2 separate regions of the Homo sapiens genome follow, and region 2 is linked to region 1. The links come from fine-mapping of genetic effects on gene expression. A gene starts in region 1. The other region holds a variant in brackets. All regions are shown on one strand. Distances are between the middles of the regions.

The links. PIP is the estimated chance that this variant, and not a neighbour inherited with it, causes the effect.
Region 2: its variant is fine-mapped to the expression of CTXN2-AS1 in whole blood (TOPMed, PIP above 0.99).

The regions. Positions count from the first base shown.
Region 1 is chr15:48,189,209-48,194,589 of GRCh38, forward strand. It overlaps CTXN2-AS1 (CTXN2 antisense RNA 1), which reads right to left and starts at 2,501. Exons shown (of 3, transcript NR_184082.1): 1 at 2,377-2,501; 2 at 1,725-1,853; 3 at 1-301. It overlaps CTXN2 (cortexin 2), which reads left to right and starts at 2,457. Exons shown (of 2, transcript NM_001145668.2): 1 at 2,457-2,645. RefSeq lists an enhancer at 2,461-2,964.
Region 2 is chr15:48,311,882-48,317,262 of GRCh38, forward strand. DUT-AS1 (DUT antisense RNA 1) reads right to left here. Exons shown (of 3, transcript NR_186809.1): 2 at 3,014-3,082; 3 at 1-860. It overlaps LOC124903486 (a long non-coding RNA gene), which reads right to left. Exons shown (of 2, transcript XR_007064625.1): 2 at 4,843-5,381. Among named protein-coding and RNA genes, the nearest start is that of DUT, 17 kb to the right of the region's middle. The variant A/G (reference allele first, on the strand shown) is at 2,268.

The sequences.
Region 1 (5,381 bases):
GGAAACGCTAGCAACCTTCAAAATGTAAGCATGTGTGTATGATGTCAATGACATAACAAATCAACATTCACACAAATGATCTATGAAACAAGAAGCCTATTCTACCTTTTAAACTAAGTGAGAATTAGAACTGTAATATCCAGATTTTAAAAATCAGCTTTATGGGCATTTACCATGGAGCCATATTTCAAGTCATAAAGTGACAAGTCAAAGTCTCCAACCGTGATAATAAATTATTGGAGTGGTGCTTATACATCCGCAGCAGAATCATGTAACTTAGTTCTGCTCCCTTGAGCTCGGCCTGCAAAGAGAATGAATGGTTATAGATCATAGTATGGAAATACAGACTCAACTATACCACTGGTCCAGACAATGTCAAAATCAAAATCAAAGGAATCAAATTCATAAAAAATTGTTCATACTGTACAGACAAAATGTTTACATGATTAGTCTCTGAACTAATTTTGAATAAATTATTTTTGTAACAGTTTGGAAACATACATAGAATAATAGATGGAATAAAATGATCTCCTTTCCCACAATCTATGACTGACTGCATTGCCAGAATTCAATATCTCTAGCATCTTGCTACTTTATTTTTATTTATTTATTTATTTTGAGACAATGTCTCGCTCTGTCACCCAGGCTGGAGTGCAGTGGCACAATCTCAGCTCACTGCAATGTCCGCCTCCTGAGTTCAAGTGATTCTCCTGCCTCAGTCTCCTGAGTAGCTGGGATTACAGGCACCCACCACCACACCCAGCTAATTTTTGTATTTTTAGTAGAGACAGGGTTTCGCCATGTTGGTCAGGCTGGTCTCAAACTCCTCACCTCAGGTGATCCTCCTACCTCGGCCTCCCAAAGTGCTGGGATTACAGGCATAAGCCACCACTCCTGGCTGCATCTTGCTACTTTAATTGGTCCCAAAACTAGTAATCTCTGGCATCACCTAGGAAATTGTCAGAAAAGCACAATCTGAGACCCAACCCCACACCTACTGAATCAGAGTCTGCATTTTAGCAAGATCGTTGAAGATTCATATGCATGTTATACTTCAAGAAGCACTGTTCCAGCCCAGAGTGCTAATAAAGAATGTGGCCCTTGGCAAGTTTAAAAAGGGTCAATAAAACCATGGCCATGGAAATGTCCCTAGAATAAGATATGTCTTTCAGTCTTTCATAGAGGGCAGTTAGTTCACCTACATTTTAGGACATCTTAATAGTTTAAAATCAAAAAACAACTTTTAAAAAATGTGGTCTTATATGAACTCTCAGTTATACATTGCCCATTTTTTTGTAAGACCATTACATTTCCTAAATCAGTAAATACTCTAAATAATCATGAAGTTTGTCTTCACTTTGTTATTGAATCTAGTTGCAGTTACATTACGTTTTCAAAGTATTTTCTTTAGATGAGTGTCCCAATTCTGTATCTACATTTCCCCCAACGACTCACAGTCCAGTAGTTATAAGGTGAATAATTAAGATTGTAGGGAATCTAAAAGTGCTTGCAACTTGTAGGTTCTGGATAGAGTCGCAAAACATAAATAGAATTGGGAACCCTGTAACTGAGTTTGTTGAAACGGCCAGACCCCTAAAATAAGGATAAAGAGCAAGGTTTCTGTTGTTGTTTTTTTGTTTTCCTTTGCTTTGCTTTGCTTTACCTTGCTTTCAACGTCGGTTAGGTTTAGAATCTACATATTCAACACTGTTTAGAAAACGTACCTGGCAGCTATCTAGAGCTTTATCAGAGCGTTTCCTGGCTGCTATTTTGTTGTCTTCTAGCTTGTGTTGGGGAGACAGGTCTCACCACGCACCATTTCAGCACTACGGACAGCGCCTAGGCGCCTTCTCCTAGAAACGGAAGGGGATTCAGTTGTGTTTGTGTGGAAGAGAGAAGGGAAAGAGTAGAGGAAAAGAACTCCAAACGACACATTCAGTCTCCAGTTAAATCAATACACCTTTCACTCCTGAATTTTCCTTACCGGATAAGAAGAAACGTGTAAGAATTTAGTGCCTACTGTTCTACTGAAAACGGCTGTCACCAAAGCACAGCAAAATGCCCGCAGCACAGCCAGGAATGCAGCAAAGAGAGCAAAACAAGGATTTCAGCAGTAAATCAATTAAACCCTCACTGCCTTAGTAAACAAAGATAATGATGAAATCTAATTGCTAACCTTCAGGGTGTGTCGTGAGAAAAAAAAGGAGTGTCTATTTTTTTCTTCCTCTCTTCCTCTTTCTTTTAGCAGAACTGAAGAATAGAGCCTGTTGCTGCTGGAGCTGATTCCCTTCCCCTCCTCATCTCCCACCTCCTTTCAGTCTCACATACACACACAGATGCTGCCACAGACACACGCGAGCGCAAATATTTACACACTGCCACACCGAAGAAATCCATGCACGTTTTCCTGCAAACGCGCGCGCGCACACGTACTTCGGCGGGCGCCCACGTCCTCTGTCTCACCAACAGACACAGACATTTACACTTCTAGGCCAGGAAAGCGCTAACCAGGGCCCTGTGACTCTACGCAGGTTCCAGAACACGCCTTCTACATTTGTTACTGAACCGATCAGCGAACACAGACAAACGTGCCAACACTTAAGTCTACTGGCTGGACTTCATCTCCATGGCAACAAGCATGGAAGGTGAGACATCGCTGTCTGCGAAGTAACTTTCTCCCCCTTCCCTCCGCATTAACTGACAGCGTTCCAAATGCAGGTCCAGATGAGAAGCATGTCCTCATTCTCTTGTATTTCTGAAGCAAAAGAGCGGGGGGTGGGGCGGTGGGTGGAGGAGCCAGTAGGTCTGATAAGTTCAAATTCTAAAGGAGAAACAGCACCCCTAATGCTAGCGCCACTGCTGATGCGGCTGCCAGGCGGGGGAAAAGTGTTGTGTACGTGCAGATTGCTGATGCTTCTCCCATAATGTTTTGTAGGAAGTTTCCATGCTTCTTCGGTTTAGTGCGTAGAAAGAGACCTGGAAACAAACAACGCAGAATGATGATGATGGTCTAGGTTTCTTTAATGAGATATCTGGAGAATTTTCAGACCAGGTTTCCCAGTGCGTTGGAAGGATTGAGTGTCAGAGTCCTTGAGCCATCCAAAGATTCTCTTAAGAGAGAAATTCTCTTAAGGTTGAAATCTGAGGGTTTAGGGGTGGATTCTGGCAGATCCTAAGGTCTGGGATCTCTGGAAAGCCCTGAAATTTATGCATTTCACCATGATGAAGACATCTAGGTTTGTAATTTAAGGTTTTCCTTTTATTCCAACACATTCGATTCTTAATGATTAACTACCTCTGTGCAGATGTGGTTTCAATAATGCTTCTTTTCTCTCTTTTACTGGGATATAATCTTTATATTTTGTGTGGAGTGTGTATATGTATGGAATGGTTCATTATTTTTTAAGCTTGGGTTTTCTTATATGTCTTATTTCATGAAATTATGAATGTCATCATTAGCAGTAGAGATTATTATATCTAATGACCAGTGCTAAAATACTTTCTACCTAGAACATCATATTCCACTCTAATAGTTATTATTTCAGGTTTATTGTTTGGAATACCATTACTAGAGAAATAAACAAGAGGAAAAACCTGTTGATTAAAATAAAACACAGGAGGTTCTTTCTTTAATGGGTACACACTTTTTAACATTAGTTTCTGTAATTGTGCATTGTTGCATGATTAAATGATTTTATCTGAAAGGTATATTTTTATATCTCTAGTAAGGTTATTTCACAGAAGACATAAACATCACTAACAATATTCATGAATATGAAAGGCTGCATATCAGGTATAAAAATACTATCATCTTTGCTTAACTGCTTACGGAGATATGATTTGTAAGTACTGATCATAGGAAGACTTTGTTTTTTACTTACTAGTTGCCAATTACAAAGCAACTTCATGAGATTTGGGCTATTTGATATCTACAGGAACACCCCTGGCCCAATCTTATGACTCATCAGTACTTAGAAATCTTGGTGCCTGACAATTGCCATGAAGGAAATGTACTTTCAACCAAGTTACTCATTGCCAAAGTACCTAACCATTTATTCCAGTGAATATGGCTCAAGACAATATTTTATCATTTGCATCAGTAGTATTAAAAGACACTTAAATATTTTAATCATTATATATATTGATCCTGATATTTAAACTGTGCATTGTTTATTTTACCCAATTTTGTGGTATAATATATTTCAAATAACTTTTACCACTACCCAATTTTACATTCTACTTATTTTTGAAAGTTCATTTTTTCTTAACTATTTTTATATGGATTTTTTAATATATGGTTTTGTAACTTAATCTAAATTTTCTCAGATTTCTTTTTTTTTCTATTTCCCAATAAACAGGATATTAAAATGATGCTTCTCTGGAGCTAGGCATTACAGTGTCTGTTGTGAATAGCTCTTCCAGCTTTTAGAGAAAGTGAAAATGCATATTTTATCTATAACTGTTGAGTATTTTGAACACCTTAGTAATTGTGAATGAATCAGTTTTATAACTGGGGACTTTTGTTTTTAATAATATTTTGTTATTAACAATATTTTCATATCATATTATGCTCTATATCAGTAGAAAAGCAGGACTTGGCACACTTAACAGTATATCCTCAAAAACTTTGGATTTGTTGTTGAAATGAGACAAGTTCTTCATTTCACAGAGCAAGTAAAATGGAAAGTTTGGCCAATTGTTTGAAAAATTTAGGCCTGAAATACTGATATTTCAACTGCTATATATATGGTTTAAATTACTAAAACCATCTATTTGCTGAACACATTGTTAGGCAATTGCTTAACTTTTTACTTCTATTTGCTTGTGTAGGCACAGCCTGCAGCAATGGACAAATTTTTAATCAGCCTTTGAATATTACTTTTTCAGTTGCTCTCCTTGACCTGTATTTTGTTTTCATCTTTAGTATAAAGTATATTTTATGATAAATATAAAAGCCTGTTTTCTCTTTTAAGATATTAATAAAACATTTGTTCTTTCTCAACCCATTTTTTTTTTGTTAAAAATGGAAATTTTACAGTTCTTTGAATCCAGGTAAATTTATGGAGCTCTTCCTTTAAAAACTGAATATGCAGTCATGTCTTCATTATTGAAAGTGATTCATCATATGATTTAACCTTCTGTACCGACTAAGTAAAACTTATTTTCTGTCAAGTTTATTTACCACCTGACTCCATTTTCTCATTACCCCTCACTCCTAAATCCAATTCAATTTAGTGTCCCTCCTAGACTCTCAACTAAATTTTTATAATGATGAAATAATTCTGAATGCCAACCATAAGACCCTGTTTTCCAGTGCTTAGTTTCCATCACCGCTGCAGAATTTGACACTGTTTGCTAATGCCTCATTCTAGAAGCCCTAG
Region 2 (5,381 bases), 120 kb after region 1:
CTTTGTAAGAGGACAGACTAATGGCAGAAAAGCTCAATTTTGTTCCATGTATCCTGGTTAAGAAAGCAAGGATACCTGCACTGCAATTCACCCTCAGAAAAATTCTCGTCCACATGGCTGGCATCAAAAGATGGCTAAGCTTCAGTTATCTGGAAAATTAATTTACATAGACAGACTCTTTCTGCAGTTAAGCAGAGTATATGGAGCTCCAGTGTAAGATTTAAACAGTATATTTTCAGGTTAAGTAATTTAAGATGAGGAATGCAGAAAGGAGAACTTCTCAGAGGTTGAGGCCAAGAACCAGGTCATGAATGTCATTGCTTCAGAGAAGGTGACAAGCAATGACAACTGGGATAAGAAGACTAATTTCCTCCTCAGCCTGGGAGACATATTGCAGCAGAGGGTAGTTTGGGACAAAACTCAGCAGTTGACTTTGAGAGAAAGGCATAAGTAACTGCTAAACTGTGAGACTGCTGCAGACCCTGGGGGCTCAAGCCCAACCCTCTGTTGTCATGCAAGCCCCTGTTCTCACACAGCATGGCTTTCCCAGACTTTCAAATCTGGATCATCTGCTCTTTTCGATGCCCAAGAGATGAAGAAAAAGAGACTGACTTCTCTGTTATTATGTACTTGCACTTTCTGATGTTCCTATTGCACTTCTGCCCAACAAAGAGGTGGTAAAATTATTCTCAGGGAAAGTGAGAAGTTCAGAGGAGTAAGAAATAACAGGTATTTAAAGATGTTAGGCCAAGCACGGTGGCTCACATCTGTAATCCCAGCACTTTGGGAAGCCGAGGCAGGAGGATAGCTTGAGCTCAGGAGTTCGAGAACAGTCTGGGCAACACAGTGAAACCCTGTCTCTACAAAAAAAAAATAATAATAATAATAACAAACATTAGTCAGGTGTGGTGGTGTATGCCTGTAGTCCCAGCTACTTGGGAGGCTGAGGTGGGAAGGATCACTTGAGCCCTAGAGGCGGAAGTTGCGGTAAGTTGTAATTGCACCACTGCACTCCAGCCTGGGTGACAGAGCAAGACTCTGTCTCAAAAAACAAAAAACAAAAACAAATACAAAAAAAAATATTAAACAACTCCAGCTGCTAACACAACACGCACATTGGAAACAGATCACCATACTGTGATTTCCTAATGCTCAAAGATACATTTACAAAATGAATTCTACTAAAAAAAAGTATTATTTGTGCACTTTTGACTTAATGTGTCCAAAAGTGAGCTCTTACTCTTCCTTCCCAAAGGTGCTCTTTAACACTCTTCCTTCATCTCCATGCATGACAATGCTATCCTTGCCATGAATCTTCGAGTCATCTTTGACTCTCACACGCACATCTGATTTATCAGCAAATCCTATTGGCTTCAGAATATATCCAGAATCTACTCACTTGTCACCATCTCCACTTCTGCCTCTCTGACCCATGTTGCCACTGGACCATTTCTCACCTGGATCACTGCAGGAGCCTTCTCAAGGGTCTTTCCACATCAGGCCTAGCTCCTCCTCTGCCTCATTTCAACATCTTCTCAAAGGTCTTTCCACATCAGGCCTTACTCCTCCTCTTCCTCATAGCAACCCAAGCAATCCTGCCAAGTAAACTAGAGATTGTCATTCCTGTTACCAAAATCTTCTAATGGCTTCCCATTTCAGTCCATGGAAAAGCCACTGTCCTTACAAGAGCTTACAAGGCCCTACCCCTGCACCCCATCCACCTATTTCTGCGACTTCAACACCTACAACTGTGTACGCCTTCCTCTGTCACTGTTCAGACCACACTGGCCTTCTTACAGGTGAGTTTGCACCCTGGGACCTTAGTGCCTGCTGTGTCCTCTGCCTGGAATGCCCTTCCCCAAGATATCACTTCCTTCAAGTTAGGTAAAACAACCCCCAGCCCCCAGCCCCACAATCAGCAAATAGCATGTTCTCACTGAGGCCTTCCCTGGCTTCCCTCTCTGAAATCAGAAGTCTAAATCCCATACCTCCCTCCCTGCTTTACTTTTCTCCTTAACTCTCGGCACTACTCATTTGAATCACATCTTCTATCTGTTGTCAGACTTATTTTGTCTGTTCTGTTCCCTGCCATATCCTCAAAGTCTAGACCAGTGCCTGGCACATGGAACACATTCAACAGATATTTGTTGGAACGATGAATTAATACAGGGCACTGAGGGGACATGGCAAGTATGAAACTCCTTTGGGGTCTGGTCTCTGACTCACTATGAAGCCGCATTCTGCCCTGCTCAGGGCCCTTCCACACC[A/G]GCTATGCCCTGACGCACCACACACTCTGTACTCTCCAGAGCTCTGAATATGCTTATCCTGCTGCCTGGGATTTCTGACTCTCTCTCTCTCTCTTTTTTTTTTTTTTTTTTTTTTTGAGATGGAGTCTCGCTCTGTCACCCAGGCTGGAGTGCAGTGGCATGTCTCAACCCACTGCAACTTTTGCCTCTCAGGTTCAAGCGATTCTCATGCATCAGCCTTTCAAGTAGCTGGGATTACAGGCATGCGCCACTATGCCCGGCTAATTTTTGTATTTTTAGCAGAGATGGAGTTTCACCATGTTGGCCAGGCTGTCTTGAACTAATCTCAAATTATCTGCCCACCTTGGCCTCCCAAAGTGCTAAGATTACAGGCATGAGCCACCGCACCCAGCCTCACTCTTTTTTTTATGTTTTTGAGACGGAGTCTCACGCTGTTGCCCAGGCTGGAGTGCAATGGTGCGATCTCGGCTCGCTGCAACCTCGCACTCCCGTTCAAACGATTCTCCTGCCTCAACCTCCAGCGTAGCTGGGATTACAGGCACCGCCACCACGCCAAGCTAATTTTTTAATTTTTAGTAGAGACAGGGTTTCACCATGTTGGTCAGGATGGTCTCAATCTCCTGACCTTGTGATCTGCCCACCTCAGCCTCCCAAACTGCTGGGATTATAGGCGTGAGCCACCTCGCCCAGCCTCTTTTTTCAATCACTGTTATTTTTATCCTTATTTAGTTCACTACTATACTCACTTTCTCTTGAGTTGATTGGCCATCTGGTGTCAGTTCTTTTGTCAATTGATTCAACAAAAATGTGTCAGGCTGTAAAGACACAAAGATACACTGTTCTGAGCTCTTAAGATATTGGCATCCACATTCCCTGCCCTCAAAAAGTTAAAGGTTTAGACAGACAAGAAAACAAGTTACACATAATAATTACAAATTGTGAAAAATACTGTGAAGGAAATAAAGAGAAAGTGTTGAGACAGGATAACTCTGTTGACCTTGATGCCCTTTGTGGGCGGGAACTGGAGAGGCTCCTTTCACTCAGCCCACTGTCGGCCACTCCTCCCAAAAGAGAGCCTGCGAGCAAGCGAGTGCAGCAACCGGAGACAACACTGGAACTGGCCCATTACTCCTCTCTGGCAGGAGCACGCTCTGTGCAGGCCCTATAGCAGCATCCAAGCCCCTGCCCTCTCCGTACCCGGGCATCCAGGAAGAATCAGGCCACAAGAACGAATAGAAGGGTGGTTGGTGTATGCGGAGGATTTTACTGGGTGATATAAGTGGCTCTCAGCAGGATAAGGAATTGGAAAGGGGATGGGTGTGGGAAGAAGGTGATCTTTCCCTGAAGCCACACTGTCTGAAGTTAGCCACATCTATCCATAGTCTTGATGCTCAGCAGCTTGTACCCCCACCGCTCCGCTGCTTGTGTTGCTCTGCCAGTTGAAGTCTTTTTATGTCAACAGGATAGGGGCGTGGCAGGCCAAAAAAGTAACATTTGGGTGGAAAAACAGGGTCAGCTATTTTCACTTAGGGCTGTGGTTCCAGGCTTAAGGGTGGGGTGGGGAGGGGGTTTAGCCAGGAGCCCAGCTGTTCTGTATCAGTGTGACAGAGAATAATGGAAATAGTAATACTTTATTAGGGTACTCAGTGAGGATGTCTATGAAAAACACATAAGGATAAGAAGGTGCTGACAGTGTTGAACTTTACCGGAGCCCTGTGCTCCTGGAACACAGCAATCGTTAAGAAGTCTCCCCAGCTTTCTGTGTTCTAGAAATGGCTAACTGAAATCAACCACCATTCCCTATATGACTTAGACAAGACACTGCCAACTCTTTCTCATGATTCCTACAAGACTGTAGATGATTCCTTTGTTTACCTGTGACAAGGTCAAACCCAGACTTTTCCCCTTTAAACTGAGCCTGCACATAAGGTCAGACAGACACCTTCTAACTTTATTCTTTGTCTCATGGATGATTAGCTGAGATAAGTTTTGTCCTCATGAAACTAACTAGACACAGAAATAAACAATCCCAACTTTAAATTTACTCCACCTATAACTTGTCTACTCTTCCCTATAAAAATCTAAGACAAGGCCAGGTGTGGGGACTCACACCTGTAATCCCAGCACTTTGGGAGGCCAAGGTGGGCAGATCACTTGAGGTCAGGGGTTTGAGACCATCCTGGCCAACATGGTGAAACCCAGCCTCTACTAAAAATACAAAAAAATAAGCCGGGCATGGTGGCGGGTGCCTATAATCCTAGCTACTCAGGGGGCTGAGGCAGGAGAATTGCTTGAACCCAGGAGGCAGAGGTTACAGTGAGCTGAGATCACACCACTGCACTCCAGCCTGAGTGGCAGAGTAAGACTCTGTCTCAAAAAAACAAACAAACAGAAAAAATCTAAAACAAAACTATCCTGCTAGATACACTGTAGTAGGCTGAACACGGCCCCTGAAGATATCCAGGTCCTAATCCCTGAAATCTGTGAATTTTACCTTACATGGAAAAAGGGCTTTTGCAAATGTGATTAAGGATCTTGAGATGAGGCAATCATCCTGGATTATCTGGCTAAGTCCTAAATAAAAGCACAAGTATTTTTTTAAATTTAAATTTTATTTTACTTTATTTTATTTTAAATTCTGGGATACATGTACAGGATGTGCAGGTTTGTTACATAAGTAAACACATGCCATGATGGTTTACTGCACCTATCCACCCATCACCTAGGTATTAAGCACCACATGCATAAGCACAAGTATCTTTGTAAGGGGGAAGCTGAGGGACATTTGACTATAAGCAGAAAATCATGTGATGGAAGCAGGGTCAGACAGAAGATGCTACACTGCCGGTTTTGAAGATAAAGGGGCCATGAGCCAAGGAATGCAGCTCTAGACATGGGAAAAAGCAAGAAAACAGATTCTCCCTTAGAGAATCTGCATCTCTCCAGAGGCAATGTGGCACCAGAGACACCTTGATTTTTGGCACGGAAGACTCATTTTGGAATTCTAGCCTCCAGAACTGTAAGGGAATCAATTTCTATTGTTTTAAGTCACTAATTTTGTGAAAATTTTTTACAGCAGTAATAGAAAATAAATACATACTCTAATCTTCAAAT